2 linked regions of the Homo sapiens genome follow. The protein of the gene in region 1 purifies or fractionates together with the protein of each later gene. This does not show direct contact. Each region holds a gene or a part of one and is shown in the gene's direction. Other genes may lie near its edges.

Region 1 (3,831 bases):
CAGCTTTCACCACATACAGTTGTGTATAACAGTGCTTTGATAAGAAAGAGAAGAGGTATTGACTCCAATCTCAGGAGATGAGGAGAGGCCTCTCACCCACCTTCTGAGCTACCATGTGAAGAGTACATTTGAGGGTTGGAATTAGGAGAGTTCAGTTTATATTTCTCATGATGAAGCTCATCAATTACCCACAGAGCATTCTGGAAGGCTTTGAGACATTTCTGATTGTGCTCATCATAAAAAAGTATTTGTTCTTCCTACAATAAACATTATAAGATGAATTTTTGATATTTAGCTTCTTATGAATGGGTGAAATAAATAATTTCTCTCTTTTATTATCTTACTTTGAGAGTTATTTGGGAATGGGTTCTAAATTTCTATACACTTTATTTTTGCCCAAACAGGCGTTAGAAATTCTGTTTATTTTTCTGCTTTAGTGTTGTATAATTGACAAATAAAAATTATATATAATTAAGCTGTACAACTTAATGTTTTGGTATGTGTATACACTGTGAAATGATCACCACAATCCAGCCAATAATATAGCTGTTACCTCACATAGTTACCGTTTTCTTTTTTCTATGCTCTCTTTTTATTTTTTGGTGTGGTAAGAACAATTAAGATCTGTCCTCTTAGCGGAAGTGAAGGTCACAATCAATATAGTATTGTTACTTATAGTCACACTGCTGTACGGTAGATCTCCAGAGTTTATTTATCTTTCATAACTGAAATTTTGAACTCTGTCACCAACATTTCTTCATTTCTCGCATCCCCAGCCCCTGGCAACCACTATTATACTCTGCTGCTATGAGTTTAACTATTTGACTATTTTAGATTCCACAAATAGGTGAGATCATGCAGTATTTGTCTTTCTATGTCTGACTTATTTCACTTAGCATAACGACCTCAGTGTTCATCTATGTTGTTGCAAATGACAAAATTCCCTTTTTTGAGATTGAATATATATAGACGGATTCGCAGCTGAATTCTACCAGAGGTACAAGGAGGAGCTGGTACCATTCCTTCTGAAACTATTCCAATCAATAGAAAAAGATGGAATCCTCCCTAACTCATTTTATGAGGCCAGCATCATCCTGATACCAAAGCCTGGCAGAGACACAACAACAAAAAAAGAGAATTTTGGACCAATATCCCTGATGAACATCAATGCAAAAATCCTCAATAAAATACTGGCAAACCGAATCCAGCAGCACATCAAAAAGCTTATCCACCATGATCAAGTGGGCTTCATCCCTGGGATGCAAGGCTGGTTCAACATATGCAAATCAATAAACATAATCCAGCATAAAAAGAGAACCAAACACAAAAACCACATGATTATCTCAATAGATGCAGAAAAGGCCTTTGACAAAATCCAACAGCTCTTCATGCTAAAAACTCTCAATAAATTAGGTATTGATGGGACGTATTTCAAAATAATAAGAGCTATTTATGTCAAACCCACAGCCAATATCAGACTGAATGGACAAAAACTGGAAGCATTCCCTTTGAAAACTGGCACAAGACAGGGATGCCCTCTCTCACCACTCCTATTCAACATAGTGTTGGAAGTTCTGGCCAGGGCAATAAGGCAGGAGAAAGAAATAAAGGGTATTCAATTAGGAAAAGAGGAAGTCAAATTGTCCCTGTTTGCAGATGACATGATTGTATATCTAGAAAACCACATCATCTCAGCCCAAAATCTCCTTAAGCTGATAAGCAACTTCAGCAAAGTCTCAGGATACAAAATCAATGTGCAAAAATCACAAGCATTCTTACACACCAATAACAGACAAACAGAGAGCCAAATCATGAATGAACTCCCATTCACAATTGCTTCAAAGAGAATAAAATACCTAGGAATCCAACTTACAAGGGATGTGAAGGACCTCTTCAAGGAGAACTACAAACCACTGTGCAATGAAATAAAAGAGGACACAAACAAATGGAAGAGCATTCCATGCTCATGGATAGGAAGAATCAATATTGTGGAAATGGCCATACGGCCCAAGGTAATTTATAGATTCAATGCCATCCCCATCAAACTACCAATGACTTTCTTCAGAGAATTGGAAAAACTACTTTAAAGTTCATATGGAACCAAAAAAGAGCCCACATTGCCAAGACAGTCCTAAGCCAAAAGAACAAAGTTGGAGGCATCATGCTACCTGACTTCAAACTATACTACAAGGCTACAGTAACCAAAATAGCATGGTACTGGTACAAAAACAGAGATATAGATCAATGGAACAGGACAGAGCTCTCAGAAATAATACCACACATCTACAACCATCTGATCTTTGACAAACCTGACAAGAACAAGAAATAGGGAAAGGATTCCCTATTTGATAAATGGTGCTGGGAAAACTGGCTAGCCATATATAGAAAGCTGAAACTGGATCCCTTCCTTACACCTTATACAAAAATTAATTCAAGATGGATTAAAGACTTAAATGTTAAGCCTAAACCCATAAAAACTCTAGAAGAGAACCTAGGCAATACCATTTAGGACATAGGCATGGGCAAAGACTTCATGTCTAAAACACCAAAAGCAATGGCAACAAAAGCCAAAATTGACAAATGGGATCTAATTAAACTAAAGAGCTTCTGCACAGCAAAAGAAACTACCATCAGAGTGAACAGGCAACCTACAGAATGGGAGAAAATTTTTGCAATTGACTCATCTGACAAAGGGCTAATATCCAGAATCTACAATGAACTCAAACAAATTTACAAGAAAAAAACAAACAACCCCATCAAAAAGTGGGCAAAGGATATGAACAGACACTTCTCAAAAGAAGACATTTATGCACCCAGCAGACACATGAAAAAACGCTCATCATCACTGGCCATCAGAGAAATGCAAATCAAAACCACAATGAGATACCATCTCACACCAATTAGAATGGTGATCATTAAAAAGTCAGGAAGCAACAAGTGCTGGAGAGGATGTGGAGAAATAGGAACACTTTTACACTGTTGGTGGGACCGTAAACTAGTTCAACCATTGTGGAAGACAGTGTGGCGATTCCTCAAGGATCTAGAACTAGAAATACCATTTGACCCAGCCATCTCATTACTGGGTATATACCCAAAGGATTATAGATCATGCTGCTATAAAGACACATGCACATGTATGTTTATTGCGGCACTATTCACAGTAGCAAAGACTTGGAACCAACCCAGATGTCCATCAGTGATAGACTGGATTAAGAAAATGTGGCACATATACACCATGGAATACTATGCAGCCATAAAAAATGATGAGTTCATGTCCTTTGTAGGCACATGGATGAAGCTGGAAACCATCATTCTCAGCAAACTATCACAAGGACAAAAAACCAAACACCACATGTTCTCACTCATAGGTGGGAATTGAACAATGAAAACACTTGGACACAGGGTGGGGAACATCACACACCAGGGCCTGTCGTGAGGTGGCAGGAGCAGGGAGGGATAGCATTAGGAGATATACCTAATGTAAATGATGAGTTAATGGGTGCAGCACACCAACATGGCACATGTATACATATGTAACAAACCTGCATGTTGTGCACATGTACCCTAGAACTTAAAGTATAATAAAAATATATAAATTATATATATATTCAATAAATATATATATGCATGCTATGGATAGTTTGGCTGTGTCCTCACCCAAATCTCATCTTGAATTGTAGTTCCCATAATCCCCGCATGTCGTGGGAGGGACCTGGTGGGAGGTAATTGAATCATGTGGGTGGTTTCCCCATGCTATTCTCGTGATAGTGAGTAAGTTCTCATGAGAGCTGATCATTTTATAAGGGGATTCCCCCTTTACTTGGCTATCAT
Region 2 (3,831 bases), on another chromosome or scaffold:
ACTTTGGGAGGCCGAGGAGGGCAGATCACCTGAGGTCAGCAGTTTGAGACCAGCCCGGCGAATGTGGTGAAACATGTCTCTACTAAGAATACGAAAATTAGCTGGGTGTGGTCACACATGACTGTAGTCCCAGCTGCTCGGGAGGCTGAGGCAGAATTGCTTGAACCTGGGAGGCAGAGGTTGCAGTGAGCGGAGACCATGGCATTGCACTTCCGCCTGGGCAGCAGAGTGAGACTCCGTCTCAAAAAAAAAAAAAAAAAAAAAGACCATTAAACCTGATGCTTCATAAGCAAGGCAAGTTTATATAGGCTGGGAGGGAGGGTGTAGGGAATAAGAGGCATCAGAGGTGACCCATCTGGATGTACTAGGTTTGGGGCAGCCCCTGGCCTCCCTCCGATCCAGCTGGGCAGACTTGGCTCGGGGTTGGCTTAAGGATCCCATTCTTCCAGGTGTGAAGAGGCAGGCTGCGGGGGCTTGCTGCGACCTCACGTCGTGTGGTTTGGAGAAAACCTGGATCCTGCCATTCTGGAGGAGGTTGACAGAGAGCTCGCCCACTGTGATTTATGTCTAGTGGTGGGTCATGCCCTTCCCTAACCCCAGGACAGGACTGGAGTTTGTTATTTTTTCCTTCCCCCTCTCCTCTTTTCCTTCCTCCCTCCCTTGCTTCTTTCCTTCCCGCCTTCTCTCCTCCCTCCATTTCTTCCTTTCCTTCAAATGTATGTTGAGAGGTCTTTGTGGTATCCTATAGAAAAACTGAGAAACAATGAATAAGAATTTGTATTAAAATAGGAAACCATGCATGTCTTGGGCATCTCAAAGCCTCCTCCCCCAGCCCCACCAAAAACAAAGAAAAGAACATGCTATTGGTTTTTTAAATAATACATGCTTATGATTAAATTTAATTGAGAACATGCAAAAATTATCACATTATAAAGAGGAAATTAGAAATCGCCCATAGTTCTGCTATCCAGAAATAGTTACCGTTAGCAGTTTAGTATGTTTTCTTCTAGACCCAGGAGTGAGCAAACAGCAGCCTTTGGGCCACATTGGGCCTGCTACCTGTTTTTGGAAATAAAGTTTTATTGGAACTCAGCCACACTCATTCTTCCACACACTGTCTATGACTACTTTCAAACTACAAGTGGCAGAGTTGAGTACTTGTGACAGAGATTGAATGGCCTGCAAAGCCTGAAAAATTTACTGTATGGTCATTTTCAGAATAAGTTTGCCCACCTCTGGTCTAAACCTTTTCTTATGCAGATGTACACGTATTAATTAAAATTCAAAACTGAGTTCATGACATATGTTCTGTTTTGAAACTACTTTGTTCACGCAGCAGTTCACTTAGCATGTTCCATATCAATATGTCTAAATCAATATCATCTTTCAATTGACTGTATGGTGTTATATATGGATAAGGAATGATATATTTAGCTAATTCTCTACTGTAAGACATTTGGGCTATTTCAAATTTTGATAGTTTAATCAATGATATCGTGAATATCCTTAGATAGAAATCTTAGCATGCTCTTCAAATGATTTCCTTAGGACACATTTCCTAAAAGTGGGATTCATTGGACAGATTGTATGCGTATTTCAAATTTTTCTTGACACGTCTTTAAAAGCAGAGGCACTTTCTTGTGGTGCGTATTCATTCAGCCAGTATTTAAAGAATGCTTCCCAGTGTTGAGTATAGTGCCACTGTTGATGATGGATTGTTAAATGAGAAAAGCCGGTTTACAAAACAGGTCATGCTCTTCCCATCCCTGTAAAGAATGTTTATAAGCAAATATTTATAAGAGAAAACCTAAGAGGACATACATGAAAATGTTAACAGTGGTTATCTTGCGGTAAGATTATGGATGATATGTATGTTTTTTTCTTCGTATTTTCTACCTTAAACAAAAAGATAGAAAATATGTTTTAAAAAGTTATGGATCATTTGTTTAACTTTAAAAAGCAGAAACAAAACCAGAATTAACCCCAAAACATGTTGATTGAGTCACTTCTATGTCACTCTTTGCATAACTCTCCTTTTCATGTCACATATTCTTCTCGATTCTAGTGATTGATCAAAGGACACCTCTTCACTTTCCCTTGTCCCTTGGACACCCTGTTTTATCCCATCCTGTTTGGCTTTTCTCACACCTGCAACCACAGACCTGCCTGAGTTTGTGTAAGGTTTTCTGAAATAATGTTCCTTCTCCTTGTCGTCTGGCTGTTTGTTCATCTCCGTGTACTTGCCTTGTAGGTGGGCACTTCCTCTGTGGTGTACCCAGCAGCCATGTTTGCCCCCCAGGTGGCTGCCAGGGGCGTGCCAGTGGCTGAATTTAACACGGAGACCACCCCAGCTACGAACAGATTCAGGTACTGGGATACCCTGATGGGAGAGGGAGATGTGGGAGGCAGGTACAGACATGGTCATCTAAACATAGTTGACCTACTCCTCTAATTTTTAAAAAAGACATAGGGTTTGTGTTTTTTTGTTTGATCTGCAGTTGCTTTTATGGAAGAACAAAATCATTCACTGTAGACTAAGGTAGGGTAGCTCTGTCATTGTATGCGAAATTTGCCGTGGGACTTTTGTTTGTTCACATTTTGAACGCTCTTCTTGGATTCCTTAGGCTTTGCTTTCCCTTACATTTTTAAGCTAGACTTAGTGATGACCTGTAGTTGTAGGTTACCCAAATGCTCCGCAAGTAAGCCTGGGAGATGCCCTTGCAGAACCTCATCACCTGCCGTTCTTACTGGGAGGCCACCTGGCAGATACCCCTTTGGTCTAATCGCCAAGGTTATTTGTATCTGTGGCCATATTATGACACTGATCCTGCTTCCCAAGTTTGGGTGGGAAGTGTAGATTGTCATAGTATGCATTTTTAGTCTTATTCCTGGGTCTGTTTTATTTCTTCATCCATGTTCTGTCTTTTTTCTCACCCCAACTTTTTTTTGCTTTTACCTCTAATTCTTGTCCATCTAGTTAATTCCTTTTGAATAAGTTAGAATATAAATAAGTAGTAAATTAATATAAATGAATAAAATAGAAAACTTCATTGAACCATCTTGTCATTACTTTAATCAACAGTTTCCAACCTTGGCTGCATATTTTAAAAATACTGATGCCTGGGTGCCACCTCATGAAATTTCGATGTCATTGCTCTGAGTTGCAGCCCAGACATCATCATTTTGATAAGCTTCCTAGGTGATTCCTGTGTGCAGCCAGGATAGGAACCACTCTTCTAAGTCTTTGCTGGGATTTAAAAAAAAAAAAGAAAAAAGAAAGAAAAGGGGCCACAGACACTTCAGTAGGCCCCTCCTCAAGTGAGTGAACTGGCTCTGAGCCTCTTCTTTTCCATGTGTCTTTTTGATCAGCTACAGCCTGTGTTCTTGATCCATAGTTCTTCATCTGTGTGTGAGTAGTAGGAACTAAGAAGATAGCCTTAAAAAAAAATTGCCTCCTATGCAAAACTTATACTCTGAAAACTACAGAACATTATTGAAAGAAATAAGGAAGGCCTAAATGAATGGAAACATATCCAGTGTTCATGGATTGGACAACTTAATATGATTAAGATGGCAATGCTCCCCAAATTGATCTATGGGCTCAATCAACTCAGTCCCTATCAAAATCACAACTGGCTTTTGACAGCAATTAATTGAAAAGATTAATCTAAAATTCATATGAAAATGCAAGGGACCCAAAATAGCCAAAACAAAATGAAAAATGAAGTTGGAGAACTCATACTTCCCAATTTCAAAACTTACTATGTATTAACTAGGCATGATGGCACATGCCTGTAATCCCAGCTACTTGGGAGGCTGAGGCAGGAGAAT

What was found.
Region 2: the proteins of GBP6 (region 1) and SIRT5 purify together in Homo sapiens (affinity purification with mass spectrometry; one large-scale study listed by BioGRID and IntAct). This does not show direct contact.

Annotation. Positions count from the first base shown.
Region 1 is NC_000001.11:89,370,232-89,374,062, forward strand, and holds part of GBP6 (guanylate-binding protein 6), read left to right. Parts: intron 1-3,831.
Region 2 is NC_000006.12:13,598,583-13,602,413, forward strand, and holds part of SIRT5 (NAD-dependent protein deacylase sirtuin-5, mitochondrial), read left to right. Parts: intron 1-447; exon of another isoform or gene 448-449; coding exon 450-573; exon of another isoform or gene 574-1,059; intron 1,060-2,251; coding exon 2,252-2,367; intron 2,368-2,498; coding exon of another isoform or gene 2,499-2,538; exon of another isoform or gene 2,539-3,055; intron 3,056-3,831. UniProt on the Homo sapiens protein: NAD-dependent lysine demalonylase, desuccinylase and deglutarylase that specifically removes malonyl, succinyl and glutaryl groups on target proteins.